Regions from separate parts of the Homo sapiens genome. Here all the other regions are linked to region 1. Evidence: fine-mapped expression QTL. A gene starts in region 1. Each other region holds a variant in brackets. All regions are shown on one strand. Distances are from middle to middle.

Region 1 (7,918 bases):
ACACACACACACACACACACACACACAAAAAAAATCCATTCTCAGACACAGCTGCGAGGAATGTAAATTAGTGCTTTTGAACGAGGTATTTGGCAAAATATTTTAATAATGTAGCCATTTCACTTCTAGAAATGCAACCTAAGGGAAAAAAGTATTGATATGTGTGAAGATTCAGATATTTATATGTTCATTGTAGCCTTGTTTATAAAAGTAGAAAATTGGAAATACCTAGTTTAACATAGGGGCCAAATCAACAAATAAATTGAAAAGGTATATAATGAAATATGAGACAGCCACTTTAAAATGATGCTGTAAAGGCCAGGTGTGGTGGTTCACGCCTGTAATCCCAGCACTTTGGGAGGCCGACGTGGGTGGATCACTTGAGCACAGGAGTTCAAGACCAGCCTGGCCAACGTGGCCAACTCTATCAAAAATACATAAAATTAGCCAGGTATGGTGACATGCACCTGTAGACCCAGCCACTTGGGAGGCTGAGGTAGGAGGATCGCTTGAGCCTAGGAGGTTGAGACTGCAGTGAGCAGAGATTGTACCACAGCACTCCAGCCTGGACAACAGAACAAGGCCCTGTCTCAAATAATAATAATAATATTAATAATAATAATAATGCTGTTAAAGAATATTTAATAATATGAAAAAATGCTTTCTGTTTAAGTGACAATAATACACATCTGGGCCAAAATTTTAATGATATATATGTATTGTGATAATCTAGACATACACTCATGCATGAATTCATAAAAGTACAAGTATACCAAAATTAAAATTATATATCAAACCTATGGGTAATTCTTAACTTTGCTTTAGGTTTTTCTACATTTTTAAATGACAATGTATTACTTTTACACTCACAGAATAGTAATTCTTTTAATGTACACCCTTCATCACATTAATTCTATGCCTTGGAATTTATCCTAAGTCACCCAAAACACAGAAAGAGCCTTATGAACAAAAATGTTCCTCTTGTGCTATCTGTAAAAGGAAAATAAGGTAACAACCTAAATGTCCAATATAGAAATGATCATGTAAAATATATTACATCCACACACGGACTATTATATACTATTTTAATCAAAAGAAAACTATTTTTATGACCACGTAAAAGAGAGAGGTGACTTGTTCTGCACAGCTTCAAAGAATCAGAACCAGAGGGTGGAACTTAGAAGTCGGCAGATTTTGATTCAACATAGAAGAATGTTCCAGCCACAGAGGAAGCTGCCTTGTGAGGTAATGAGCTCCCTGTCACTGAAATTATCCAAGTGAGGCTGCTGCTTCTGTCAGGGAGGCTGAGGAAGGCTCATCTGGATGTGGAGGGAGTCTGGACTAGATAGTCTCTGAGGGGCGTCTGAAGGTTGTAGGTGCTGAGCAGGAGCCCCCTGAACAGACAGATGGTCAAGGGAAGGCTTCCACTCAGCCTACCCTCAACTTCTTTTCCTTCTGCTCCCAGTTACTCTAAATGTCTCCCAAAATATAGTCTTTTTTTCCTCTCTGAATGTGCTTTAAGTGTTTGGAGACTGGCCTGCTCAAGTCCCCTCATTAAGCCCTGGCTTCCTGAGCCCGTTCGCCTCACCCCAGAGCTCAGGGGAGTGCGAATCCTGCAGCTCTTTTGTGAGGCACAGCTCCAACCTTCCTCTGGGGGGCCCCATGGGTGCGCCAAGACCAGTGCCAATGACCTCATCAAATTCACAACAGGCAGTGAGGAAGACGATGAGGAAATTGGCTCGGAGAACGGAACCGCAGCCTGTTCAGCACCAGTTGACACCACGCTCCCATCTGCTGTTGCGGCTTCTTCACTCTGGCCTAGGCCAGTCCCCTGGGCCAAGAGAGCTCGCTCTATGAGCCCGAGGCTGCAGGCTGGGTCTGGGCGAGGTGGGGGCTCTGATGTCAGCCCGGGAGCCAAGGTGGCTGCCTCCCTCACTGACTGAGGGATCAGTAATTATTTCATTTACAAGCAGAAATAATCCAACTCAATAATCCAGGCAGACACATTCAAAGTAATTATCTGTGTAAGGCGTCCTGCACCATCACCTTCCTAGGAAGGAGGAAAAGAAGCCTAGCCCAGCAAAAAAAAAGCAGGTGGGGACCCCCATTGTCTGCAGCCTGTGTGCAGCAGCCTGCCAGGATTAATTACACACCAGTGCTAACACATTTATCACCTCGCCGCTGATTGGAAAACCAATGACTTTTAATAATTCATATCTGTGGCTCGGCACTCTGTGCCCTTGTGCAAAGACACAGAAACTCGCTTGTTTCCATAAGGAAAGCCCAGTGGCAGTGCCAGGAGGGGTGCCTTCAGCCCCTCCTGCCACCCCAACCTGGAGACAGGCCAGAGCCTAGCCGCTCCCACCTCCCCTCCACCAGCAGGGTCTGCTCATGTCCTGCTGAAGCTAAAATGCAGCTGCTCGGGGGTGAAAGCTGGCGACTGAACCGTCCTAGCCACAGGAGCCCTCCTCAGTTTCATACTCTTCCAGGGTGGCCTGGAAAACAGGATTTGGGAGATTTGTAGGGCAAGTGCCCGCAGTGCCCCCGCACCTGCCCAGACAGTGGGCTCAGGCAGATACCTGCCAGCCAGGACCCTGCCCCACCATGCAGGAGACCCTCAGCAGAGTGCACCACTCAAGTGATCAGATTGAGGGTAAAGGGTCTACAGGGCTTTGGGAAGAGCCTCCAATCCCTGAAGGCTGCAACCTCCTCTGACACCAGCTCTGAGCTCCAGCCTCCTCCCCACCACCTTCCACCCTCCTGCAGCTCTCCCTCCCCACCCCTGTGCCCCGGGGATGGCTCTCCCTCTATCCCGGTTCTCCATCTCTGCTCTCCCAGGCTCCACAGCCCCCTTCCCTGCCCTGGCTGGCCTGTTGTCTCAAAGAGCATTTCCCAGGAGCCTCTTCTCCCTTCTTCTCCCTTCTCCCCCACCCCCGCCACTTTCCTGTCTCGCCCCGCTTCCCTCCCCTTCCACTGTAGCCCTCCTTACCCTTCTCTGGCCAGTCCCCCAACTGTCCTCCTTTCCTCAGACTCCTCACACAATACCTCGAGGCTCTTAGCTGGCTGCAGCCTGGTCCCATCATTATAAATGCCATCCCCTCATTCCCTGCCCTCCTCTACCACATACCAGGCTCCAGCTCCTTCAAGAGCTCCCCACTAAATCTGAGACCCCCAGAGCTCAGATGCGTCCTAGGAATTGGAATCCAAGAGCCTCTGTCACCCTTCGACCCAACCTCTGACTCATAAGAATGATACACACCCTGACCCCTCCCCACGCTGAGGAAGGTGAGTCCCTGGGGCTGACCTGAGCCTGACCCTGGACCCCCTCCCTCTCTCCTTCCTGCTGGCAAGATTAAAGGGAGGGTGGGCTGGCCTCTCTGTGCTAGCTTGCGTGGGGGACCCCTGCTGGACCCTAGGAAGCTGCCAGCCCCAACGCTGCCTTCATCCAGGAGATGCAATTCAAATGTAATCAATTTAAACAGCATCAGCCCTGACAGGGGACTCTGGAGGTGGGGGTGGGGGCACAGGGAGGGCTATAATTAGCATTCTCAGCATCCATGATCCCCAAGTAAGGCTGCCAAGGATGAGAGATGGGGAAGCCAGTGCTCCGCAGTGCAAGCAGCCCAGGCTCACGCGGCAGACAGGCAGCTGCCAGCCCTGACCAGAGCCCAGCCTTCCTCCTCCCACCTCATCTATGTGATGCATGAAAACAGACTCACCGGCTTCTGAGGTGTGATCCCCGCGCTGGAAAGCTCTAACTCTGCGAGCCCCAAGGCACCCCTCCCCCCAGCTCAGGCCAGCTGGGGTCCTCCTCCCCCGCCCCTGGGGCCCCCTTCTGCAGAGCGGGGCTCCGGATCTAATCTGATCTAATCAGTCATCTCTCCGGCTGGCAGGTCCCTGGCGCAGGGAGAGGATGCTGTTGTGGTTACTGCAGGATCCAGCATCTTTCCCAGGCAGAGGCAGCTGGGCATGCTCCATCGGCTCCCCCGGGGATTTCAGGGCCACGTGACTCTCCCTCCCCAAGCTGTCACTTAGGATCAGGAGTAAATAGTCCCCGAAAAGGTTTAACTCCATCCACACCAGCGACAAGCTGCTAACCATCCACGCAGCCTGCCTGCCCGGGAGAGGATGGGGTGGCTCAGCACAGCCTCCTGGGCCTTCCACCACCAGGAGAAGGCTGCCCCCCAAAGGGGAGCAGGGCCACCGTCTGGGTAAGCTGCATTTTTAGAGTCCCCCACAAGAGACTGCAGGGAGCCAGAAACTGCCCAGGGTCTTAGAATCATGTGTGGGGCCTCACCCAGCCAGCCTGGTGATCACCTTTCACCTCTGTGGCTGTCTACTCCAGAGAGGGGCACGTCTCTAGGTGTCAAGAGGGCTTGGCTGGGGCCCTGGGGCCTCCCCATCCCCCGCCCCCCCCCCAATATGGTGAATTTAGAGAAATAACATTTGGAGAGGGTTGGGGGCCACTATGAGATGCCAGGATGAGTGGGGTGTGAGTGGGTTGTGGAGCCACTGCCCCCACACCAACCAGCCAGGCTCCTCCCAGGCCCTGGGAGGGAAGTCTGTGCTCCTGTTCCTTCCGTTGCACATTCCTTTACAGATAAGGGCTTCAGTTGGTAAAAATGATATAGGTACTCAGATCACACTAAGACAGACCCACTTGTATTGGAGTCGAGAGGCTTAATTTTTTAATCAAGTTGTTCTAATAATAAACAAAAAATGCAATTATCAGGTGAGTGGGGCCTTGCAGAAACCCTTTCTCTAGCTCCTGCCCAAATCGGTCTTGATAACCCTGAGCAAGGATGCTAGCCAAGCTACGGGGTACCTGGGTTCTGTATTATTCAGGATCAGAGGCAGAAGGAAGGACTTCAGACAATAGGGTCGTAGCTCTGTTTCTGCTTAGACAAAGATTGCTTTCTGCCTCAGTTTCCCTTTATCCACATCTCTCTCAGTTTTCCTCTATCCACGGATTCTCTGTGACAATGGGCAAGTGTAATAAAAACACTGATTTCATAAACAGGATCAGAAAGATGGAAAAAACCAAAAGATTCCCACCTCAACCTCCAGGCAGGCTCGCTGGTCTCAGTCCCATCTGCCCCTTAAACCTGGAAACTGGGGACTGAACCAGATGAGCTTCTGGAGTCACTTCTGAATAGAGAAATATGTCAAGAAGCAGGAGCTAGAGAAAGGGTGTCTGCAAGGCCCCACTCACCTGGTGATTGCATTTTTTGTTTATTATTAGAACAACTTGATCAAAAAATTAAGCCTCTTGACTCCAATACAAGTGGGTCTCTCTTAGTGTGATCTGAGTACATATATCATTTTTACCAACTGAAGCCCTTATCTGTAAAGGAATGTGCAACGGAAGGAACAGGAGCACAGACTTCCCTCCCAGGGCCTGGGAGGAACCTGGCTGGTTGGTGTGAAGGCTGTGGCTCCACACCCCACTCACACACACCACAGCATTGGAGGAAGACAGGGACCTAGAGAGCTACTGAAGGGACTGTCTTTCCCACCCCAGGGCAGGCCAGGCTGGAGCCAGGAATCTGGGGTTAGGGCAGCAGGCGCAGCTCAGCAGCACTCTTGGGGAGGGGGACTCTTGGTCACCTCCCACTGTTCCCCTGCCCAGCTGAGATGTCAGGCCAGCCCTGCATTGGCTATAGGAAAGCTGCTCTGCTGAAGGGGCAGACAAGTTGTGGATGAGGGCCCAGTGCCAGGCAGGACCGATCAAGCCCAACTCACCTGCCCTGGCTCTCCAGGACTTGGCAAGGCTGCCAGGTGCAGGCAGGGGGAGAGTCTGCTTTCAGTCAGCCAAGATGAGGGGCTCTTGGGGGTCTCTGACCCTGCGGAGCCAGTGGAGGAAAGGAGTGGAGGCAAGAGATTACAGCATCCCAGAGGGAGGCCGGGGAGGGGGACAGAGACCCCAGCCCAAGCCCCCACAATCCTCAGGCAGCTGGAAAAGGCAGGCGACCAACAGATGGGCCTGCTGGGCGGGTTTCCTCTCTGGCAGGCAGAGGGCAAGGGCCGCAGACGAGTCCCACGGATCCTTCGAGAAGCCTGAGCCAGACATGTGAATGTTTCTGGGGGATCTGAGTAGCTTCAGGGGCATGAGAAGCCAAAGGGAGGGTCGGTGTGGGGTGCATGCCTTTAGCTGGGGGACCAAGGCGGAAGAGATGTGGTAGCATGAAGATCTTAGAGCTACAGCAAGGACAGGTGAGGCGGATGGACCAGAGATAATAAATTCCCTTTGCCAAATCTAAGTTCTTGCTCTGCGAGCCCAGAAGAGGAGAAGCAAGCCTCACCTAAACAACTCCAATGGGGAAGGCGTGAGGTGGCGTGAGGGAGGGAGGATTCCACAGAAAGCACCTCTGCGATCCCGTCTCTCCTCTGCTCTACAATCACTGGTCCCCATTGCTCAGAGGATCAAGTCCAAGCTTCCCAGGCACCTACTCATGGTCTCCAAACACACGGGTCCTCCCCACCTTTCTGGTGCCATCCCCACTCCCTACCATACAGTCTTGGTGGCCACTAACTTGACTGGCTCACTGCCCATTCAGTGGAACTGCATCCACATGGGTCTCTCTTCCTCGCAGAACATGCCAACTAGGGGCAGCAAAGGGAGCTCCGTGGGATGAACTAGCTCACTGCAGCCTCCACCTCTACCTGGGCTTTAGCAATCCTCCCTCCTCAGCCTCCCAAGTAGCTGGTACTGCAGGTACACACCACCACATGCAGCTAATTTTTTAGTTTGTTTTACAGACAGAGTCTTGCTATGTTGCCCAGATTGGTCTCCATCTCCCAGGCTCAAGCAATCCTCCTGCCTCAGCCTACTGAGTTGCTGGGACTTACAGGTGTGAGCCACCATGCCTGGCTAACGATAACCTGTGTGACTTGGAAGCCCAGCTCCATCCCTGAGTAACTCACTGACTGAACAAATTACTTGACTATCCAGCCTGTTTTCCTCACCTGCAAATGGGCTTCTTTGAAGCCCAGCACATTCACTACCTTTTCTCCTCGGCCGCCTCCTTCTTTACTGTTCTGGGGTGTTATCTGCCTTTCTAAGCCTAGAGCTAGTGGGGTCACTGTACCAGAACTGCTGCCCCAGCACTCCTGTGCTCTGTCCTGTCTGCCTTCTGGAGACAACAGAACTGCTTTTGGTGGCTCCCCCGCCCCTCCCAGGGCCCCTCCTCCGGGGTCTCGCAGTTCGGGTTGGGGTCTGTACTGATGAATCCCAGAGACCCAGCACAGCCTTGGAGGCTCACCGGGGTCTCACTGCCCAGCCTGGAAGCACGCGGGGCAGAGACCTGGGCTTCTGATCTCTGCCTCCCTGCAACCCCTCAAGAAGCGCTGAGCAGCCCGTAGGCGCGCCAGGGCCGTGGGTGGACTGCCTGCCTGCACATTCTCGCACCTTCCTGGAGGAAGCTTCCAGAACAGAACAAGGAAGACCAACGGCTGGGTGGGGTTCCCTCGGTGGAGGAGCCGCAGGGGCCCAGCTTGGGAACCGGGTTATCAGGGGTGTGGCTCTGCAGAAAGCGTCCTGCCACGTCTCCCTCCCTGTCAACCTTGGGGAAGGAGAGAGGCACCCTTGGGGACAGAACTGGCCAGTTTCACCGGCGGCGGCTTCCGCAGGAACGCGGAGGAGGGAGACAAGGGGGCGGGGGAACACTTCCTGTTGGGCAGGAATGGGTGTTACATAGCTAGATCTTTAAGCATCAGAAAGACAGCTACCAGACCCACTATGGCTGGGAGGTGGCAGGGGATGGGAAAGGTGGCCCTGTCACCTCCGAGAAGGCGCCTTCAGCCTGGGGAGACGCTGTGAGCAAACCCCCTGAAAGCCTTGTGGGGCCATCATGTGTGCTCTGGAGCCCTCTTGTGGATTCTTGCGGTAAGTGCATACAGGCTTGCAGTGCGTTTCTCC
Region 2 (7,918 bases), 39 kb after region 1:
CATCTACATGGTCAACTGAAATTTGAAAAATATGTCAAAATTACTCAATGGAGAAAGGATAGTCTTTTCAACAATTGAATATCCATGTGCAAAAATATGAAGCTTAACCCTTGCCCTCATAACACATACAAAGGTTAACTCAGAGTGAATGACAAGACTTAAATGTCAGAGCTAAAACTACAAAACTTCTAGAAGTAAACATAAACAAAAATATTCATGACTTTGTTAGGGAAAAACTTCTAAGACCTTTGGAAAAGCATGGACCATAGAAGAAAAAATTGATAAACTGAACTTCTGCAAAATTAAAAAAATTCTGCTCCCCAAATTACATAATTTAAAAAATAAAAAGGCAAGCCACAGACTGGGAGAAATATTTGCAAAATATAAAGGACTTATATCTAGAATATGTTTTTAAAGACACACACACATACACAAATCCATATAAATACTAACAATTTGGCTTAAAAAAAAGGACAAAAGATTTGAACAGACACTTGACTGAAGAAGGTATTTATCAATGCAAATAAACATGTGGAAAGATGCTCCATATCATTAAACACCAAGGAAATGCAAATTTACACCAAAATAAGATGCCACTAGAATAGCTAAACTTAAAAAGACTTACAATATCAAGTGTTGGCAAGGATGTGGAGCAACTGGAGCTCATACGCTGCTGCCAAGTAGTATAGCCACTTTGGAAAACTGTTTGGGAGTTTCTTATATAATTAGATATATACTTACCATATGATCCAGCAGTCTCACTCCTGGATTTATCAAAAAGCAATGAAATCATATGTCCACTCAAACGCTTGTACTCAACAGTTCATAGAAGCTTTATTCATAATAGACACAAATTTATATGTGCTTATATATGTATATGTTTATATGTTTATATATGTAGTCATGTTTATATAACTACACATATTTATCAAAACTCATTGAATTCATACTTAAACAAGCCAACTGTTTATTATCTAGTAAATGAACAAATAGTGGTATAATTATACAATGAAATACTACTCAGCCATGAAAAGGAATGGACTACTGATACACTCAACAGAAGGAATGGACTGCAGAGACACTCAACAGCACAGATGAATCTCAAAAGCATTACAGTAAAGAAGCCCACCACAGAAGGGTCCATGCTGTACATCCGATACCATTTTTCTGAAATTCTAGAAGAGCTAAAAGTGTTGAAAGCAGATCAAAGGCCAGACGTGGTGGCTCACACCTGCAATCCCAGCATGTTGGGAGGCCAAAACAGGCAGATCTCTTGAGCCCAGAAGTTCAAGACTAGCCTGGGCAACATGCCAAAACCTTATCTCTACTAAAAATACAAAAAAAAAAAAAAAAGCAAAAACAAAAACAAAAAAAAAAAAACAAAAAACCAGCTGGGTGTGGTCGCACACAGCTGTAGTCCCAGCTACTCAGGAGGCTGAGGTGGGAGGATCACCTGAACCCAGGGAGATAAGGCTGCAGTGAGCCGTGATCACACCACTACACTCCAGCCTGGGTGACAGTAAGACCCTGTCTGTCAAAAAAAAAAAAAAAGACAAAGAAAAGAAAAGCAATGGCTGCCAAAAGCTGGAGGTTGGGAAGGGGACCGAATACAAAAGAACATAAGGGAACTTTCTGGGTGATGGAAATGATCCATATTTTGATAGTGGTGGTGTTTATATGACTACACGTGTTTATCAAAACTCATTGAATTCATACTTAAAATGAGTGAAACTTATTGTAAATTATACTTTAATAAGTTAATAAAAAACAAGAAGTGGGTTGGGGAGACGTTGCTCAAAGGATACAAACTTTCAGTGAGGAGGAATAAGTTCAAGAGATCTACTGTACGACATGGTGACCATAGTCAATAACAATGTATTATATTCTTGCAAATTGGCCAGGTGAGGTGGCTCACACCTGTAATCTCAACACTTTGGGAGGCAGGAGGAACACTTAAGCCTAGGACTTCAAGACCAGCCTGGGCAATATAGGGAGATCTCGCCCCTACAGATAACTTAAAAATTAGCCTGTTGTGGTGGTGTGAGCCTGTGGTCCCAGCTACTCGGGAAACTGAGGCAAGAGGATTGCCTGAGCCCAGGAGGTTGAGGCTGAAGAAAGCCATGATCATGCCACTGCACTCCAGCTTGGCAACAGAGCAAGGTTCTGTCTCAAAATAAATAAATACATAAATAAATAATAAAATAAAATAAAATAAATAAATAAAAAGCCCAGGCGTGATGGCTCACGCCTGTAATCCCAGCACTTTGGAAGGCCAAGGCAGGCAGATCACCTGAGCTCAGGAGTACGAGACCACCCTGGGCAACATGGGGTGAAACCTGTCTCTACTAAAATACAAAAAATTAGCCGGGTGTGGTGGCACGCGCCTGTAGTCCCAGCTACTTGGGAGGCTGAGACATGAGAATTGCTTGAGCCCAGGACGCGGAGGTTACAGTGAGGCGAAATTGCACCACTGCACTCCAGCTTGTCTCAAATAAATAAATAAATAGAAAAAGGAAATTGCTAAGAGTAGATTTTAAGGGTTCTTACCACAAAAAAAATGCTAAGTATGTGAGGTAATACATGTTAATTAGCTTGACTTACCATTCCACAATGTACACATATTTCAAAACATCATGTTGTAGACAGTAAACATATACAATTTTTGTCAATTTAAAAAACAGAAAAGTTTAAAAAACAATGTCCTCAACCATCTTAGAAAACTGGATATGAATGGTATCCTGCATAATGAAGTGCCTTTCATAACGATGACAATGTTTCAGCGAACCTTAGGCTACCACTGGAAAGAGTAGTCATGACGACCTTACATCAACTGATTTAAAACTTTGGGTTTCAGGTCATCACTAATAATGCTAGCTTTTCAAAAAAAAAAAAATCAAATACTACAAATACAAAATAATGTAAACATTGAAGATAGACCTTTTCACATACAAAATTGCTTCTTTGAAATGAATTCATAAATTACTTGTTATGTCGGGAGGGAGCCTGTGTGTTGGAAAAAAGAGGCTATGGAAATTACCACTTGAGTTAAAGAAAAGTGTATCATGTGTCTAAAATACTCTGGTCACTGCGCAGACCCTTCCACCACAGAGGAAGAAAGGAAAGAGCAAATCACAATTAAAATTCAATGTGACTTGAACAGTGATAAAAAAGTATACAAGGGCCAAGTGAGGTGGCTCATGCCTGTAATCGCGACACTTTGGGAGCCCCAGGCAGTAGGATCTCTTGAAGCCAGGAGTTTGAGACCAGCCTAGGCAATATAATTAGACCCCATCTCTACACACAAAAATAATAAAATTAGCCAGGCAATGTGGTGCATGCCTGTGGTCCTAGCTACTTGGGAGGCTGAGGTGGGAGGATTGTTTAAGCCCAAAAGTTGGAGGCTGCAGTGAGCTATGACCGTGCCACTGTACTCCAGCCTAGGCCTGGGCGACAGCAAGACTCAAAAAAAAAATCAGTTCCTTTGTTTGTGTTCAAATACAAATCTTGGTTCTCCTATAAGAAAGAGCCCCTACTTCTGGGTAATTACCACAAAAAGGTGGAGTCACACTGGGCCAGGCAGGCCTGGAATGGGCAGGGCAGGGCAGTTTTCCAGCTTGTTTACACATTGAGGGACCCACCTCCAGGGGAGCAATAGCAACCAGATCTGTAATAACAGGTGTCCATCAGGCACTCCCAGATGGAAGATAACGCCATCTGGTGGAGACAACAGAGCATCACTAGAAACCCAAAGCCAATCTTCTGCCAAAGAGCTAAAACCCCTGGTGTGGTGGCAAGAATACTCTGGTACTCCAATGCAGCCTATTAATTCTGGGAAAGGAGGGTCTCAGTTGATTTGCTCGCATATTAAATTCATAAATTAACAATGTGTCTTATATTAATAATGACACTAGAATTAATGGATGTGGTATACCTAGCCAAATTGAAATTTGTAATTACTTTCTACAAATTTAGTTAAAGCTTACGGTAGCTTTTCTCTAAGGACATTTAAATTCTGTGATTCTACATCATCTGATGATTGTGGCACACTTGTTTCTGGTCAGACAAGGCTGTGTGGATGAAACTTCAATAAAGCTGATAAGAGAGGTGACTTTGGGAAAGCTATTAACTTGGCCAGGCCCAGTGGCTCACACATGTAATCCCAGCACTTTGGGAGGCCAAGGCAGGAGGACTGCTTGAGGCCAGGAGTTGCTATATGGGCAACATAGCCAGACCCCATCTCTATTTATATATATTAAAAAAAAGAGTCCAGGCGTGGTGGCTCACGCCTATAATCCCAGCATTTTGGGAGGCCAAGGCAGGCAGCTCATGAGCCCAAGAGTTCGAGACCAGCCTGGGCAACATGGTGAAACCCCATCTCTACAAAAAAATTAAAGTTAGCTGGGTGTGATGGCATCTGCCTGTAGTCCCAGCTACTTAGGAGGCTAAGGCAGGAGAATCGCTGGAGCCTGGGAGGCGGAGGTTCAGCACCAAGATTGCACCATTGCACTCCAGTCTGGGTGATGGGAGTGGAACCCTGTCTCAAAAAAAAAAAAAAAAGTTGTTATTCAACAAATATTTATTGACTATAGCATACCAGACACAGTTCTAGGCTCTGGACTCATAAACGACAAGATCCCTGTTCTCATGGAGTTTACAGACTAGTGAGGGTGGTGGTAGATGAGAAACAAGTAAAAATGTTAACAAGATGAGGGCAGAGTGAACATAATTTTAAAAGGTACTGTGAGAGAAAAAGGAGGGGTTGGGGGATAGAGTGATCAGAGGGCTCTTTGAGGTGATTATTTGAGATCCAAAGAGGAACTAGTCTTTCATGATAAAATGCGGTCTTAAAAACACCCACTTCAGAACATATATCCAGATAAGTCTTTTTCAAAACCCCTGGGACTCCTCTGGTTTTTGCCTTCAGAGCCCATTAAGAAAAGGAGGTATGGCTGGACCTGACGACTCATGCCTGTAATCCCAGCACTTTGGGAGGCCAAGGTGGGCTACTTGCTTGAGTTCAGTAGTTTGAGACCAGCCCGGGCAACATAGTGAGACCCTGTCTCTACAAAAAATAGGTGAGCAAAGTGGTGCACACCTATGGTCCCAGCTACTCGAGAGGCTGAGATAGGAGGATTGCCTAAGCCTGGGAAGTCGAGGCTGCAGTGAGCTGTGATCATGCCACTGTACTTCAGAGCCTGGGTGACAGTGAGACACTGTCTCAAAAAAAAAAAAAAAAGAAAAGAAGGCTTAACTCAAAGCAGCATTTACTATCACCTCTTTCTTTGACCCTGAATATCCTTGGAATGTTTCTGAAAGTTAATCCATCTTTTTTATTTTCAACATTTTTGAGACAGGGTCTCACTTTGTCGTGCAGGCTGCAGTGCAGTGATTCAATCACAGCTCCCAACTCAGCCTCCCAAGTAGGTGGGACTACAGGCATGCACTACCTTGCCCAGCTAATTTCTTTTTCTTTTTTTTTTTTTGTATTTTTTGTAGAGATGGTTTTGCCATGTTGCCCACACTGGTCTTGAACTCCTGGGCTCAAGAGATCCTCCCACCTTGGCCTCCCAAAGTGCTGGGATTACAGGCATGAGCCACCACCCCTGGCCAATCCAATCTTAAGTATAAATATTTACCCAACATTTTAGTGGGAAAATGTGCAGTGAGCTCTGTAGAAAAGTCAAGAACCGTGTGAGGTCCTTTCTTCTCGCATCTCTGGCAATTGTGCTC[T/G]TCTTTTGCTATTAAGTTCTTCATCCTTCTTCTTGGTAGGGATCTATAAAACAGTAGTGAAAATAAAATATTCAGCAAATAAAGGCAGGAGGAAACATAAAGGATATTACTGAGATAAAGGGGGAAGTATAAAAGATTACAAGAACAAAACCTGAAAAATTGTTCCAAAGCTGCTTCCCTTGTTGTACAGCTTTCCAGGCCTTGCGGCTCTCAGGCTCATTAGATCTCTAGGGTATCCTCCCCATGGGTCAAGCAACCTACTTTCCACAAACCTAGTTTCCCCTGTCTCTCTCTGATAAGATTAAGGCGTCTGCCAGTGGTGAAACACTGATGTAACTCAAATTGCTTACATGGTAATACATAACTCCTACTCTCAACTGCCTTCTCCGTTCCATGTGTAGAATGAGTTAGTTCTCTTTAAATTCCCTGATGTCAAACCTGTCACTGAAACATATTGGTTGAAAGCATCATAGGTCCTGCTTGATGAATCCTCAAAGTCAGCAGGGTTAGAAGAGATTTACGTATCCTCTTTATGATACCGATTATTATAGATCTCAATAGCATGCTGCCAACACAGACTTAAGTCTCGCTGGAGCACATCCAGGAAGGAAAAGATTGGTGTTTTGTGTTGATCACAAAACATTCAACTAAGTTCATAAGGAAAGATTCCAAATAGCTAACCTGTGTATCATTAAATAACTCTCAAAACCTCTTTTTACAGATAAAAGGAAATTAAGTCTCTCAGCTCAGAAAGGTACCCTGGGAAGCATTATTTTTTAATGTACCAAAAATGTCTTTGTACATCTCTGTATTAGATGCTTTTATAAACAACGTGCATTATGAGAAAAAAATGAAAATTTCCCATTTTTATTTTAAAAAGGTACAGAGAATAGAGTCCAAATGAAGTCTCCAAATGACAATATGCCAGAGAACACCAAATTCCCAAATCTGAGTAACTATCTAAATTTCTGAGGTCTCAGCCTGGACAACATGGCAAAACCCCATCTCTACAAAAAACAGAAAAATTAGCTGAGTGCGGTGGTGTGCACCTGGAGTCCCAGCTACTCAGAAGGCTGAGGTGGGAGAATCGCTTGAGCCTGGGAGGTTGAGGCTGTTGAGGCTACAGTGAGCCAAGATCGCACCAATGCACTGCAGCCTGGAGGACAGAGCAAGACCATCTCAAAAAAACAAGAAATTCTGAGGTCAGCAATTAAATATTTGCTTTTAACTTTCTACTAAAGTACAAAAGAAAAATAACACAATTTCTATGAAATATCAGGATAAGCATAGCAATAAATCTGGCTTAATGTAAATGTAGCCATTTTCACATATATTACTGGGGAATGGCAGACATGCTTCAATTAACCCCAAGATAGAAATAAAATTATAACCCGGGGATGTCAACTCAGTTTGTACTAAATATTGTTTAACTGCAACTAAATGTTAGTTTCTTTCCTTCCAGTTCAGAAATATATCTTAATAACTTTTCTTCATTATCCTTTCATCTTGAAAGTGCCTGAATTAAGAGTGCTATTATTCTTTCATCCATTAATAGGGTTGCCATAACCCAAATGCTTTCTTTTTCGGAGTAAAAATTTTTTTCTGATAACATTTATTCTTTTGAGACAGTCTCAATGATCCATATATCTAGTATTAAAGCATGATTCCATCTGACTTTATTTTTTGAGACAGAGTCTATCACCCAGGCTGGAGTACAATGGTGGAATCACAGCTCACTGCAGGCTTGAACTTCTGTGCTCAAGCAACCCTCCTGTCTCAGCCTCCCCAGTAACTGGGTCTATAGGCTAGGACCACAGGTGTGCGCCACCATGGGCCAGTTTTTTTGTTTTTTTTTGTAGAGGAAAGTGTCTCACTATGTTGCTCAGGCTGGTCTTGAACTCCAGGCCTCAAGCAATCCTCCCACCTCAGCCTCCCGAAGTGCTGGAATTACAGGCGTGAGCCACCATACCTGGCCCACTTTTGTAAATGAGAGATCATCATGATTTTACAATACCATGATTATCGTGATTAGTAACACACAAAATAGCCAGACACGGTGGCTCACGCCTGTAATCCCAGCACTTTGGGAGGCCGAGGCAGGAGGGTCACGAGGTCAGGAGATCGAGAACAACCTGGCCAACATGATGAAACCCCATCTCTACTAAAAATACAAAATTTAGCCGGGCAT
Region 3 (7,918 bases), 68 kb before region 1:
CTGGGTTGCCTCAGCCAGCCGGAGCTGGCTGATGGACAGCCCTGTCCCTTCTACTCTGCCCTGAGAAAGTAGCAACTCCCACCTTGATGCCATCCACCTGAGTAATGCTGCCGCCTCCCATGTGGAGAAGGAGAGCCCTCTAGTCCCACCCAGGCCGCCCCGCCTGATTGGAGCACACTTGCAACCTGAGGCGTTTGGCTCTGGCACGATGCCCAATTGGATGAGCCCACATTATGAAATATTTGCCTGGCGGGCCAATAGAGGAACTGGGATCTGGGGGAGGGATGATATTGTTATTTATTCCTGGAGGAAGGAGAGCAGACAAAGATAGTCACAGCATCCCTAGCCCTGGGATGGGAAGCAGTGGGAAGGTGGTCTTCAGATCCATGGAACTGCCTCTAACTGCTCTGTCCAGGTAGAGTGAACTAATTCTTGAAGCTTTCTAAGCAATTTGAGCCTGGCTGTTCAGCTAGAGGGTTTGTTTTTATTTTTATTTTTTTACCTTAATGTCTCTCTGCGCCACTCAGAAGTTTGGAGAGCAGCACTAGGAATTGTAATAGAGATTAAGAGGAGAAACACATTGTCAGTCAAGGAACTGCTTCATATCTGCATAAACTATGCAACCACAGTTATTGTTTATAGTTCAAAGTTGCAGAAATTATTTTAGTGTCTTTGGAGGATACAGACGGAAGGTGAGCAAGAACAAGAAGAGATAAATTCCCTCTTTATCCTTTAAAAATAGGCAACTGATTTGGGGGAAATCTAAAAGTATCTACAAGCAGGACACATGCAAATCTATGCAGATGTGTGCAAATGAGCAGCGCCGGGCTTGTGAGAGTAAGTCCTTGCCAGGATTTTCCTCATTTGAGGAAGAAATTAGGTAGTCTCTAAACCCCATATCAGAGCATCTCACTAGAGCATAAGGAACTCAATAAGCCTATATTTATTGAGCATTTACTCCATATGAAACAGAGTGCCTTTAAGTACAGCCCAGTAGGATTTTTCTTTTTTACCATGATCATAAATGGGATATACAGAGAATACAAGTTCCCTCTCCCTACACACCCACAATTAATAGCCCCTTCTCCTTTCAGGCCCCAGAGGAGTGATTTGGCTACTCCTCCTCTTGCCAGCCCGGATTTAGTAGCTGGCACCTCCTCCTTATCACCCCTGGTTCCTGTTTGCCTATCAGTAGCCCAGCCACTGTGGCTCAGGACCCTGCTTTAAACCTGCCAGGGGGCCTTATCTTATCTCCTGGGCTGCCTTCCTAGCAGCCCGCGGGGTGGCTGGCTGGCCGGGTTCCTTAAAGGGGCTGCACTGCATTCCCACTTGCTCCATTCACCCTCAAGAGTACCCCAGAGATCTGGAGGTGTTCTACTTGTGTAGGGTCAGAATTTACTATACCACCCTTCCTTCCCATCCTTTACAGTCACAGCTACTGTAGAGCTGCTACTGAAATGATCTATGACTTAGAACAGAAAGATGCTCATGCTTTTAGAGCCATTGTAAATGTTTATCATGTCATGCAAATGCCCTGCCCCTTGATATTTTCAGGTTCCTGCTCTTTTAAATTCAATTTTCAAAGCAAGGGAGGAGAGGCTCAGGATACAAAGTCTATATAGAAAAATCAGTTGTATTTCTATATACTGGCAACAAACAATGAAAAAAGGAAATTTTAAAACACCATTTATAATAGCATAAAATTAAGGGATACTTTTGACAAGGGATGTGCAAGACCTATACACTGAAAACTATAAAACATTGCTGAAAGAAGTGAAATAAAATCCAAATAAAAGGAGAAAAATACTGTTTTCATGGATCAGGAGACTCAATATTGTTAAATTGTCAACTCTCCCCATATTTTTCTATGGATACAACACAGTGCCAACCAAAACCCTAGCAGATCTTTGTAAAGTTGACAAGCTGATTCTAACATTCACATGGAAATTCAAAGGATCCAGAATACTCAAAAGCTTTGAAGAAGAATAGGTTTGGAGGATTTATACTACCTGACTTCAAGACTTATTATAAAGCTACAGTTATCAAGACAATGTAGTGTTGGCATAAAGACACATATATAGATAAATGGAACAGAGTAGAGAGTTCAGAAATAAATCCACACATTTTGGTCAATTGGTTTTTGACAAAGGTATAAAGTCAATGCAAAGGAGAATGACAGGCTTTTCAATACATGGTGCTGTAAAACACATGAAAACAAACAAACAAACAACCTTGACCCTATCATTAAAAAATTAACTCAAAACGGACCATAGACATAAATGAAAGAGCTAAAACTACAATGTTTCTAGAAGAAAACACAGGAGAAAATCTTAGTGACTTTGCATTTGGCAAAGATGTCTTTAAAATGACAAAAAACGCACCATCAAGAAAAATCAATAAATTGAAATTTGTCAGAATTTAAGTTTGCTCTTCAAAAGACACTATTACAGGCCAGGCGCAGTGGCTCATGCCTGTAATCCCAGCACTTTCGGGTGCCAAGGTGGGGAGATCACTTGAGGTCAGGAGTTCGAGACCAGCCTGGCCAACATGGTGAAATCCCGTCACTACTAACAATACAAAAATTAGCCAGGCATGGTGGCGTGCACCTGTAATCCCAGCTACTCAGGAGGCTGAGTCAGAGAATCACTTGAACCCAGGAGGGGGAGGTTGCAGTGAGCCAAGATTGCATCACTGCATAGCAGCGTGGGTGACAGAGTGAGACCCTGTCTCAAAAAAAAAAAAAAAAAGACATTGTTACGAAAATGAAAAAGTAAGCCATAAACAGAGAAAATATTTGCAAACTATATAACGCACATAGGACTTTTATCTAGAACCTATGAAGAACTCTCACAACTTAGTATTAAGATAGCAAACAACACCAAAGTTATACACATGTCAAATAAGGTACATGAAAAGAAAACATCATTAGCCATTAGAGAAATGCAAATTGAAACTACTATGAGCTATCTCTACCCACACCCACTAGAATAGCTAAAATTAAAAGACTAACCATACCAAGTGCTGGCAAAAATGTAGAGGAACTGGAATGCTCATATACTGCTGGTGAGAATATAAATGGTACATCCTGCTTTAGAAAACAGTTTCCCAGTTTCTTAAAGAGTTTAAACATCCATGCACCATACAACCCATTGACTTCACTCCTAGGCATTTACCCAAAAAAAAGGAAAGCATATGTCCACACAACGACTTGTAGACAGATGTTCACAGCAGCCTTATTTGTGACAGCCCCAAACTACAAACAACTCAAATGTCCATGAAAACCTGGGTACAACGTATGTGTTACATGCATACAACAGAGTACTACTCAGCAATAAAAAGAAATGAATTATTGAAATATGCAGCATAATGGATGAATCTTAAAATATTTATATGGAATAAAAGGAGCCAGGCTTTCTTGAAATAAAAGTATTCATTTATGATTCCATTATATAAAATTCTTAAAAATGCAAACTAATCTATAGTGACAGAAAGCAGACGGGTGGTTGCCTGGGGCCAGGGTGGAGGGAGGGATTACAAAGAGGCAGGAAGAAACTGGGGAGTGATGGATATATGTTAATTATCTCAATTGTGTTTATGGTTTCACAAAATGCACCTAATTTTACCCTTTAAATATATACAATTTATCATATACCTCAATAAATCTATAAAAAAGAAAAGCCTTCAATTGAGACATTAAAACAACGACTGCTATTATTGGGCACACCCATTCTGTTTCACATGGTGATGGAATGAGGGTGGGAATGGGTATGGTTTCCTACTGACCTGCTTTAGTCTGACAGAAATGCTGGTTACAGGCAGAGATGAACATGTGTCCTGAATCCGCCTTTACTCTTCTCATGGATTTAGATCAAATAATGTAGCAGACCTGAATACGGTCTTCATCAAAATAAAGGATTATTTGTTCTATGACAGAAGGGAAAATATCAAATAAAATCCTTTACGGTTCACAAAGCACTGTCATCATTATCTCATTTGGTTCTTTTATGGTCTTATGAGGTGGGCAGAAAAGTGTTAGTACCACCCTCATTTTACAAAACAAAATCCCTGAAGCTGGAAGTGTTGGCTGAGATAACCCACCTCATATACCTGAGGCAAGGCTAACCTCGGGGTCTGTTAACCTCAGTCCGAAGCTCTTTCCTCAGGGCCACAAGGAGCTGCCCCGACCTGGCTGATGCCCACCTATGTCCCTCACCCGGGCACTATGTCCCTCACCCTGGCTGATACCCACCTGTGTCCCTCACCCTGGCTGACGCCCACCTATGTCCCTCACCCTGGCTGATGCCCACCTGTGTCCCTCGCCCTGGCTGATGCCCCCCATTTCCCTCACCCTGGCTGACGCCTACCTGTGTCTCTTGCCCTGGCTTGGTCTTTGTGGTGCTCACCCAGCACTGGGTGGATGCTCCTGGAGCATGCCAGTGGCAGCACCTGAGAGGCTCCTGGGATGGATGGAAACAGGGTCAGGACAGGTCAACTAAGGGGAGCACTGCAAGACAGGGAAGACTGATAGAAATGAGGGATGCAAAGTCTAATTAGATCACACATTTGATGTGAAGAGGGGGAATAAAAAACAACCAAATGCCACTCCCAAGGCGGAAGTCTGGAGGTTGTGGAAGCAGCTGGAAG[CTGTTAG/C]TGTTAGAGAGCTCCCGGCCAGACACACGGCTGCGTTCCAGGCCTCTGTACCCCTCCCCTCCCGCCTCTTCTCTGTACCCTAACCTTCCTCCTCCTGGCATGGAGCCCCACCTCTCTCCCCCAACTTGTTCTGAGGGTGGGATGACTGGGAGAGGGAGCAAGCCCACACTGTGGGAGTGGGGGAGGGAGCACAAAGTTTAAGGGGCATCCAAAAACTCAGTAATCAGACTTTTTTTTTTTCTTTGAGATGGAGTCTTGCTCTGTCACCCAGGCTGCAGTGCAGTGGCGCGATCTTGGCTCATTGCAACCTCTGCCTCCCAAGTTCAAGCGATTATCCTGCCTCAGCCTCCCAAGTAGCTGGGACTACAGGCATGTGCCACCACACCCAGTTAATTTTTGTATTTTCAGTAGAGATACGGTTTCACCATGCTGGCCAGGCTGATCTCGAACTCCTGGCCTCAGGTGATCCGCCCGCCTTGGCCTCCCAAAGTGCTGGGATTACAAGCATGAGCCACTGCACCCGGCCAATCAAGACTTATTTTAACGCGATATTTTTGAAATAAAAATTAACATTAAAAACCCATGATGAATGAAATACCAACATTTCAAATAAAGACAGGACCAGTATCACTGGAATTTCCCTTTTGCCTCAGCCTCCAATTTGGCTTAAAGTGGCACTGTTTTAGATCCTGTCTTTATTTCGAATGTTACTATTTTGTTCTTCATGAAATGTTTGCATTGATTTTGATTTTAAAATTATTGCATTGAAATGTTATTTATCTTGACTACCGAGTTTTTTGGCACCCATTTGGCAAAATGTAAGACATTTTGTACCTAAGGGGAGTGTATTAATCGCCTTACTCTAGTCAGCCCTGCTCAGGGATGAGGAAAGACGGGACAAGGCTCAGGAAGTCCCAGAGAGGATCCTGTGCTCTTTAAGAAAACTTCAATGCATGAACATGGAGAAAGGCTGAGGGACTTTCCAGACTGAGAGGAAAGAGACATGATCCTGAATTGGATTCTAATGACATTATTAGGACAACTGGTGAAATTTCAATATGGACTGTATATTAGATAATAGAATTGTATCGATGTTATTAAGTTTCCTGAGTCTGTTAATTGTACTGTGGTTATGCAAGAGAATGTCCTTGTTTTTAAAAGGAAAAAGAGAAGATGAAGAAAGAGTGGCCAGAGCGTGACAGCTGCTTGACAGCTGCATTAAGCCAAACACCCTTCTCTCTCTCCAGCCTGTCTCTCCTCCAATTCCAGGCCATCCCAGGAGGATACGGAGGAAGTGGTGATGGCAGAAAATCTTGTCCAGAAGATAGGGTACTGGAGGGCTGGTTGGACATTTCTTCTTGAAATAAGAATTAACCTTGAATTCCCAAATTACCCTTCACCCTCCCAGGAAAACTTGACAACTAGCACAGAAAGAAAAAGGAAATTAACACCTATCCAAGTCATGATGCTAGCGAATTCTCTGCTTAACCCCCAGAGATAGGTATTGCTGTCCTGCTGTTGCGGAGGAAGAACCTGAGAGGTCAGGTTATTAGCCCAAGGCTACACAGTTAGGAAGTGAGAGAACTGGGATTAGAGCCCAGGACACAGCCCAAAGCCAGCTTTCTTCCCACTTTATGTTAGTTGTGCAACTTGAAATTCCCTTCTCATGCATCATCCTACCAGCTAATCCTTTCGTTTATTTTTATTGAGTTGAATCCGCATTAGCCTTGAGATTTTTGGCTCTGGAGTCAGACTGCCCCAGTTCCAATCCCGGCTCCACCAGTTACTACCTAAGGGACTCTGGGTGAGAAACTTAACCTCTCTGTGCTTTCATTCCCCCATCTGTGAAAACGGGATAATATACGGACCTTCTTCATGGGTTCGTCACAGGAGTAAATAAGATTATACCCACAAAAAATTTATGAAAGGTTCTGGCACTTAGTAAATGTTCAATAAATGCTAATAATCATTATTATCTGTCTGCATCTGCCTTGGGCTATTTATCCTTAGGAGACAGTGGCTCAATTTTGATTATAAAACCCCTCACCACTTTGACACCTACAGATGGATGCTTAATAATTTGTTCCTAAAGAAGTTATCCATCAAGATAGTACCCTCTCCCCTGTACTTAGGAGCCAGAACAATTAACACCTGAGAATCTCAAATGTGAGGGAGGTCTGTTCCTAGTGTAATTTGAACTGGGAGGTGGGCTTTTGTGTGTGTGTCATGGTTGAAAGCAGTCCATTCTAAGGGTCAACATTACTGGACAGAAATAATTGACTAAGAAGACCCAGTTCTAGGCCAGGCGCATTGGCTCATGCCCATAATCCCAGCACTTTGGGAGGCCAAGGTGGGTGGATTTCCTGAGGTCTGGAGTTCAAGTACAGCCTGGCCAACATAATGAAACCCTGTTTCTACTAAAAATACAAAAAGTAACCAGGTGTGGTGGCACACGCCTGTAGTCCCAGCTACTCGGGAGGCTGAGGCAAGAGGATCGCTTGAATCCGGGAGGCGGAGGTTGCAGTGAGCTGAGGTCATGCTATTGCACTCTAGCCTGGGTGACAGAGGGAGATGCCATCTCAAAAAAAAAAAAACAAACAACAAAAAAAAAATTCTAGTGCTTATGCTGCTATCCAGCTGCATAAGGTGTGTAGCAAGTCCTTGTTCTCTTGGGGCCCACTAGACCTGAGAAAGGGAATCTCATTGCCCCTAGAGCAAATTATAGGACAAAAGAGCTGCTCATCCTGAGCACCTTCGGTTCTTCAGGGAAGCGCTCCTTCCAAAGGCTGCCTGCTCATCTGAAACCCTCACCCCATTTTAGAGGCTTAGATTCAGCTGGGGAGGACCCACAGCCCGAGAAGGAAAACAAACCAACAGATTATGCTTCTAGGTGGCCACAGCAGGCCAAGCCAAGGGCAGGGTGGCCAAAGGTCAAGCAGCAGTCAGACTGAGCCAACACGAGCCTCCTGTGACAAAGCCAGAGCCAGAGCAGGGCAATTTTCTAACTATAAACGGAAACTCAAGAAGCTCCAAACCGCACAAACACACGTGGGAAGATGAGGGTAAGGCACAGAAGCTACGGGGTGCACGCACACAGAGGAAGGGGCTTCATGACGTGCAGGCAGGGGACCAAGGAAGGGCATATGTGTCAGTGTCGTGGATGCAGCAACAGATCTGGGTTTCTGGGGTCCTGGAGCTTATACAATTTGTGGTGGGAGGGGCGTGGTCCTCATTAAGGAAAAGACTATAGGTACAAATTTGTGTGTTA
Region 4 (7,918 bases), 970 kb after region 1:
GAGATAGTTGCCTTGACTTGCTATCTCCTTTCCCCTCTGAAATCTGCTTCTATTCCTGGGGGCTCATCCAGATGATTAGAATTCTCAAAAGGAAGTATGGATAACATAAGAGCAAGCACAGGGCCGAGTGTTGGGGGACCTGAGTTCGAGTCCTGACTCTGACACTAACCAGTTCTGTGGCCTTCTACTAATTACTTCATTCTACAAATACTGGTGCCCACTAGGTGCTGAGCCTGGGGACACAATCATGACAAGATTCCTGCCTTTGGAATGTTCTCAGTCTAGTGAGAAATAAACAAGTAAATCCTGTACAGAGGGAGAAGGGTCCATGATGGAAGAAGAACAGATTGCCTTTTCTTTTTTTTTGAGACGGAGTTTTGCTTTCGTTGCCCAGGCTGGAGTGCTGTGGTGTGATCTCGGCTCACCACAGCCTCCGCCTCCCGGGTTCAAGCGATTCTTCTGCCTCAGCCTCCTGAGTAGCTGGGATTACAGGCATGCGCCACCACACCCGGCTAATTTTGTATTTTTAGTAGAGACAGAGTTTCTCCATGTTGGTCAGGCTGGTCTTGAACTCCTGACCTCAGGTGATCTGCCCGCCTTGGCCTCTCAAAGTGTTGGGATTACAGGTGTAAACCACTGCGCCCGGCTCAGATTTTCTTTAAGATATGTATCCCAGGTGGGAGGAGGCTGGTCAGGCGCAGGTTCCTAAAGCCAGGACTTTTTAAGTTGAGACCTGAAGGACAAGTGGCAATTGGCCAGCTGAATCAACATTTCTTCATAAGATGAAAGAATTATACAGATGAGCTTAACGCTTCTTTTAAGGCTTAATCTAGCTACACTCCTGTAATTTTTTCCAGGTATCCCCAACACCCAGTGTGCTGCGAGGCACCTAAAAGTCGCTCCATAGATGCTTATGAACTGAAGGAATGGATGTGCGATGGAATCCAAAGATGAAACTAAAAGCACCTACATGTGATTGGGCCCACTCCATTACCAGCTATCTGGCCATGGTCGGGAGGGAATCATCTGCAACTTCTTGGACCTTCTCACCCCTGCTCCAGCTTCCTTTGACTACAATCTGAATTCCCATCTAGGTGAGGAGCCATGGGTGACCAAAGATCACAGCAGGTAGGCAAGGAAGACACAGAGCCAGAACAGCATGTGACTCGGAAATGATCTAAGCTGCTGAAACTCATATCTCAAATTCCTTAAAGGAGGTCTAGTTGGTGGGAAAGCGAGAGTGCCTGACAGGGAATCCGTGTTGGTCGGGGACTCTGCCACCAGCAGTCTTGGGGAATTCCTGGGTCATGTGGTCGGATGTGTGGATGTGCTGAGATATCTGGGCTGAGCTAAGCTACTCTCAATCCTGCCTGCCCCACTATTGACTCCTGGAAGGGAGACGCCTACCCCCCAGCCCCAAGTCCCATGGCTGATCCATGTCTGAGGGGGTCATGGGGGAAAGCTGTTTATTGGATCTACTATGTGCTGTGCTGGGAAAACAAGTGGGAACAAATGTCTGTCCTTGTCCTTACACACTTCACAATTTGTGTGTGTGTCTGTAGGGGAGTGGAGGTGGGTCCAGACTGGTAAAAGGGGATTTGAAAGCAGCTCAGTGTGTGGACTGCTGTGATGTGTCCTGGTGGGAGCAGGGTGCAGGTAGGAGCAGAGGTGAGAGGCACCAAGGCCATGCCATGGGGGTCACGTGAGGGTTGGGAGCAGGTAAGGCAGATCTCAGATACCTCTAAGATGAGTCTTGAGCCCTGAGGATGAATTACAGCCTGTAGTATTCCCTACCTCCCCTCCAAGAAAGGGATGCAAATCCTGTTAGTCGCTGGCAAATTGGGAAGCCTAGCTCAAAGCTGCCCTCTTCTGACCAAACTAAGCCTAGCATGTTTTATGGGATGCCCAAAGCTGTGACCACAAGCAGAAGTCGGCTTAGGCAATTTGTTCCTCCAGTAAACCGTTCATTTGTTCATTCATTCATTCATTCAACAAATATGGACTGAGTAATTGCAATAACAGCTATAATGATATCTAACATTTATTAAGCCAGCCCTGGTTCTAAATTCTAAATTCTAGTATGTCTTGCCGGAAGTTTGGAGAATTTGTGCCGCAAACACTGAAAACAGCCCTCAAACTCTCAATTACCCTGAGAAACCGAATGTTATTCACAGACCAGGCCTGGGAGGGGATGTGACTGAAGGAGAAGCTAGCTCTTCTCCCCAAGCCAAAGAGCTTGCCCTGTCTCCATCCTGGAATGGGAGGGAGAGCACACGCAGAGAGACAGGACGCAGGCGTGCCGGGGTCCAGCTCCACTTCCACCACCAACCCACACCATGCCATGGCCAAGGACTTTCTCTTTTAGGGGTGGTTCCTTATCTGTAAAAGGAGATTTGGATAAACCAACTCTCAGTTTTGTTTCAAATCTGCTTTAACTTCTCTGCAATATCTAAGCAGGGACAAATTAGAAACCTCAAGGGCTGGGCGCGATGGCTCACGCCTGTAATCTCAGCACTTTGGGAGGCCGAGGCAGGCGGATCATGAGGTCAGGAGATCGAGACCATCCTGGCTAACATGGTGAAACTCCGTCTCTACTAAAAATACAAAAAATTAGCCGGGCGTGGTGGTGGGCACCTGTAGTCCCAGTTAGTCAGGAGGCTGAGGCAGGAGAATGGCGTGAACCCGGGAGGCGGAGCTTGCAGTGAGCAGAGATCGCACCACTGCACTCCAGCCTGGGCAACAGAGCAAGACTCCGTCCCCCCCACCCAAAAAAATTAGAAATCTCAGCCACTCGCTTTCTTTTGCCACCTGGTAACTGATTCCTTCAGTACTGGACATTCAGGAGCCCCATTCCGTCTCGCATCCCCAGGCTGGCATAATGTTTTTGGCTCAAGAGTCTGGCAACCTGGGCTTCAGGCTCTGCTCTGTCACTAACTGACTGTGACTATAACTCATGTCTCCACCACTTCATGTATAAATAAGAATTATTCTTTTATGCAGCTAACATACTGTGTGTCAGCCACTGTTCCTTAGATTTCCTGTATTCATGAATTCAATCCTTTCTACAACTCTATGAAGTACATACTAGCCTATGATATCCCCATTGCGTGTGAGAAAAGTGACACAGAGCAATTAAGGGCCTATGCAGGGTCACAGAGTTGTCAAGTGGTGAAGCCAGATTGCCTGGGGTCCAATCTGGCTCCAGAAACAGCACTCTTAGCCCTCATACTTTGGCTTAGAGAGGATTCCTGACTTGCCTAGAGTGTCAAGTAGACTAAGCTGCTCTGCGTCATACTTTCCTCATCTGAAATGACTACCTCCTGGGCTTGCTGTGGGATGAAATTAGAAGTGAGGTCGTCAGACTGATGGTTTCCTATCCGTCTGCCTGGCGCTTTGCTGGGCTCTGGTCCTCCCAAGTCCCCTCCCTCAATTTCGGCAGAGACCCAAGAGTGTGTGCGCGCACCTAGTGTGTGTGTGACAGCGAGGGGTTATCAGAGTTCCCTGAGCTCCAGCTGACCTGATTTGGGACAGAAGACAGTTAAGATAAGCTCAGAGCTAGGAAGTGGTCATTGAAACAGCCCAAGGCTGGACCTCTGTGTTAAGGGAGGGAGGAAGGAGCTGATCTGAGAGAGAAAAGAAAGGACCTCTTAACAACTCTTAGTGCTAGATTCGAACACCCGAAGGAAGTTGTTCTGAGAGTTGGGAGGTGGAGGGGTGGATATATGTGTAGATTTGCAGTCTAGAGGGACTGGGCGCAGTGGCTCACGCCTGTAATCCCAGCACTTT[G/A]GGAGGCCGAGCTGGGCGGATCACCTGAGGTCAGGAGTTCGAGACCAGCCTGGCCAACATGGTGAAACCCTGTCTCTACTAAAAAAACAAAAATTAGCCAGGCACCTGTAATCCCAGCTACTTGGGAGGCTGAGGCAGGAGAATCACTTGAAACTGGGAGGCGGAGGTTGCAGTGAGCCGAGACCCTGCCATTGCACTCCAGCCTGGGCAACAAGAGTGAAACTCCGTCTCAGTAAATAAATAAATAAATAAATAAAGTTTAGAACTTCCAGTCAGTGTTTTAGAAAGGGTCTCCTTACCCCATTGTTAGTAGCGAAACCAGAGATTTTTCTCTTTTTCTGCCCTTCACTCCTGTGTCCTTTTCCCAGTCACGGAGGATCTGTCACTTCCATTGCTGTGGAGTTGGGAAGTGTGGGTGCTAGGGAGTGGAGAAGCTATGCCGGCGACTGGGGAAAATTTTCATGGGATTCCTCCATGGGTCTTCAAGTACTTTCTACTAACTCACTCTATTACGTTGTAGTCACCTGAGACCCTTTTTGAGTAAAGGATGAGTAAAGAAAAATAACCCCCCATCTTTACAGGTGTCCACCCTTTCACACTCACTATTTTATTGATTCTCCACTGACCCTGTGAAGTCGGGGCTTCTGGTTAGATGTTGGGGTACAGGGGCTGTTGATATAGATGTGGCAGGAGGTATAATGAGCCTGGGAATGGAAGTCAGGAGATGAGGTGCTACACCCAACTCTGCTGCTTGCTGGCCACATGACCTGGGACAGGTGACTCGATCTCCCAGCCCTCAGTTCCTAATTATTCAAAGAAGACCCCAAACTTGGAGATACTTTGTAAGCTGTTAAAGGCTCCCCAGCAGGTGGGGGTTTATGGCAGTGGATACTAGGCCACTTCACACTCCATTTAAATGCTGCTCCCTATGAAGGGGCTGAGGGTCTTCCTCCTGGCCCTGCCTCCACTTGGAATGACCAGGCAGGGCAGGGCATGGGAAGTGTGCCCAGGAGGGAGGTGGGAGAAAGGTCTGCCCATTGCCACCCCCCTTCCCCGTGCCTGGCTCCCAATGGCAACCTGAGCCCTTGGCCTCCCAAGCCAATCCTGGAATGTAAACCCCAAGCAAAGCACATTCTTTAGCCGGGTCACCAGCTCCTGGCCCTTGGCAAGGAAAGGCAGGAGCCAGCATTTCTCTTGGCCCCAAATAACGGTAGCACAATCTGGTACTGAGGGGCTATTACTACAAGGCTGGGTTAATCAGCTGGTTCTCACCCACAGCTCATAAAAAGCTCAGGTCTGACCTAGCACCCCTGTGAGCGCCCACAGTCAAGGGGAGAGGGAACTCAATCCCTAAGCAGAGGGAGTTGAAATATTGCTTATTTCCTGGATCTGGTTCCTTGTGTCAGTTGCAGGCCATAGAGGAACTCAGAGGGAAAGGGAGCACCCTAAAGATTCCCTCAACGCTGGTGCTGCCTCTGGACTCTTTGATTTCTAGCTTTTATTCAACAGTTGTGTGCTACATATTTAGATATCGCATGCCAGGCACTCTGTGTGATGCCCTGGGCCTATAAGAGTTAATAATATCATTACAGTCCTGAGAAGTACCTTAAAAGTTTTGTGTGCATGGGGATGAGGTGGGGTGAGGAGACAGTGGATTCGCCAGGTACACCATTGAGGGGGCATTCCGGGCAGAGGGGACAGGCTGCTTAGGATAGGGAGTCAAGGAGCAGCTGGACGCATTCAGGGAGTACTGGGCAGAGGTAAGAAGAGGAGGTGGGAAGGGTGGGACTTCATGAAGATCCTTAGAGGGAGGCTGCTTACGCTTCACAAGGATATGGTCGGATACGTAGACAAGAAGAACAGAGGGAGTCTAGCAGCCATGTGGAGGGTGTCTGGTGGGGAGCCTGAAGGTAGGGGAAGTGAAGTTGGGAGGCTACTGAAACTGTCCTCTCAAGGGACGGTGACGGTCTGGACTAAGCTAGTGGCTGTGTGAGGGAGAGAAGAGTGAAGATAAGGAGGTCACCTGCCACCCAGGGTTGAGCTGGCTGCCCCGAGGCACCGGGAGCGAAGGTCTGGGGTGGAGTAAGATGAATTTGGAAGGGAAGCTCCAGTCCAGTCTCCTTCTACAGATGGAACAGGGGAGCCTGGGAAAGGGATTTGTAAATTACTGTTCCCTTACAAATGTTTGGTGTTGAGACTATGAATTGCTAGGCTGTGATTAGGACCAAGGCCCATTTTCTGTTGAATGGCAGGCAGAGTGCCCCGAGGTCCTGTGTCGTCCTTCAGGTAAGGAGGGCAGGGTGGGCCACCGTGAGATGGTGCATGGGGCCATGGAAGTTCCCAGCCCTGCTTGCACAGCCATGTGCTCCCTTCCAAGGCTAAGCAGGGGAGGAGCCCCGACAGCCCAGTGAGAAGCCAAGCAGAGCAGAAGGCCAGCAGCTGGCACCCTGGAGCTCCTTCCTGTCCCACTGTCCATGCTGCAGGTACGCTGAAGGGAGGAGGATAGATTTCTCCCCAACCACCTGGAAACCCATCAACTCTGAAATGTCACTTCAGGCACCAAGTGTTCAGATGAGTCTCTGGCCTCCAGCTCTCATCCCATGGACCCTCCTAGTCATCTGTTTCCTTTTTGGAGGGGGGCAGTGGCTGAGGGATCATGCATGAAAAAAAGAAACTGTCTCAAGAGCCAGGAGAGTCCAGTCTGGCTAAATTAGGAACTGGGACTTCCCCTCACTAGGATCTTTCCCAGTTCTTCCCCTCAGAGAGCCATCCAGTCATTTACTCGACACAGGTTTATCAAGTGCTGGTTCTGTGCCAGGCACAGGAGGTGCTAAGCATGTGAGGGTAAGTGAGGAAGACCGGGTTCCCTGCTTCATGGAGCTCAGGAGCTCTTGTGGAAGTCACAGGACTTCTTGAGTCTCCATTTCCTCACCTGTAAAACACCTCACCATCTTTAGAAGGGTGCAGAAGATTCCCCTAGCCATGATGGCAAACTGCAGCTTGGGGTTCCAGAGGGAAGGGTGAGGCCTGGGTAACGTTGCAGCCACTCACCCCCAAATTAAAGGACTCCGAGCCTGGATGCCTGCTCAGAATGTGAGTCTGGGAATGTGAGTGTGTGAGTGTAAGAGCAAAAATATGTGCATGAACATGTGTGTAGAAGCGCATATGGGTGTGTGTGTGAACGTGTAAGAGTGTAAGGTGTGTTATTTGAGGCGTACAAATGAGGATAAGTGTGTAAGGCATGTGTGGATTTGAGGGGTAAGAGTACAAGGAGAGTGTGAAGCATGAATGTGAGGTGTGCGTGTGAGCATGAATCATCCTGTGAATGTAAATATGTGAGTGTTTCCATAAGGTGAGTGTGTAAGAGTGGGCGGTTTGTGGTATAAGCATGTGTGAGTGTATTTGTGGGATGTGTGAGAGCGTGTGTGTGAGCATGAGTGAATGTGCAAGCATGAGAGTAAGAAAGAAGGGGGAGAGTGTGGAGAGAGAGAGAGTGTGTGTGTGTGTGTGTGTGTGTGTGTGTGTGTGTGTGTGTGTGTTGGGGCAGGCAGGTCCAGGGTGTGCTGGCTGGAGTTGCGGGAAGCTCATCTGGTATGAAATAGCAGCTGCACAGGATCTGCAAAGAGCTCACTCTTGGAAAGAAGTTCACTTTGCCCTCTGTGCGGCGATGGTGGGTTCTTGGTGCTCTGCTTTGTGGAGGGGACAGGCTGTTCAGGACAGGGAGTCGAGGAGCAGCTGGACGTATTCAGGGAGCACTGGGCAGAGGTAAGAAGGGGAGGTGGGAAGGGTGGGACTTCACGAAGATCCTTAGAGGGAGGCTGCTTACGCTCCACAAGGATATGGTCGGATCTGTAGACAGGGCCTCTGGGGGTTCTTTGAGCCAAGTACCTGCCTGGGGAGCTCAAAATGAATGGAGTATTTGGGAAACAGCCCATAATTAAACCATTAAAATAAAAAGGATCATACCATGGGGGAGCACGCAAACTCTAAAGACATTTTGCAGCTAACTGGCCCTTCCCCTTCCCCCAGGGATTGTCTCTCCCTCCTCTGTCACCACTTGCCCTGTGGGTAGAGAGGGGTGAGGTCTGAGAGGAACAGCCAGAACAGCTCCATCACACTTAGGCTGACCTGC

Alleles and levels. Positions count from the first base shown, and alleles are read on the strand shown. Sizes are in standard deviations (SD) of each study's normalised expression. Not every link is listed here.
As copies of C replace CTGTTAG in region 3, the expression in lung of the gene that starts at base 3,955 in region 1 goes down (moderate effect, 0.63 SD a copy in GTEx).

The links. PIP is the estimated chance that this variant, and not a neighbour inherited with it, causes the effect.
Region 2: its variant is fine-mapped to the expression of PLEKHA6 in whole blood (TOPMed, PIP 0.96).
Region 3: its variant is fine-mapped to the expression of PLEKHA6 in lung (TOPMed, PIP above 0.99). The same link has a PIP of 0.9 or more in gastroesophageal junction and spleen.
Region 4: its variant is fine-mapped to the expression of PLEKHA6 in cerebral cortex (GTEx, PIP 0.99).

Annotation. Positions count from the first base shown.
Region 1 is chr1:204,355,975-204,363,892 of GRCh38, forward strand. PLEKHA6 (pleckstrin homology domain containing A6) reads right to left here and starts at 3,955. Exons shown (of 23, transcript NM_014935.5): 1 at 3,720-3,955. RefSeq lists enhancers at 1,238-2,165, 2,166-3,092, 3,208-3,843, 6,831-7,384.
Region 2 is chr1:204,395,017-204,402,934 of GRCh38, forward strand. It overlaps a transcript of PPP1R15B not described here. Among named protein-coding and RNA genes, the nearest start is that of PPP1R15B, 13 kb to the right of the region's middle. The variant T/G (reference allele first, on the strand shown) is at 5,731.
Region 3 is chr1:204,288,259-204,296,176 of GRCh38, forward strand. The region is part of intron 1 of PLEKHA6 (pleckstrin homology domain containing A6); the gene reads right to left. Among named protein-coding and RNA genes, the nearest start is that of PLEKHA6, 68 kb to the right of the region's middle. RefSeq lists an enhancer at 7,070-7,918. The variant CTGTTAG/C (reference allele first, on the strand shown) is at 4,645.
Region 4 is chr1:205,323,757-205,331,674 of GRCh38, forward strand. No RefSeq gene overlaps it. Among named protein-coding and RNA genes, the nearest start is that of NUAK2, 6.0 kb to the left of the region's middle. The variant G/A (reference allele first, on the strand shown) is at 3,787.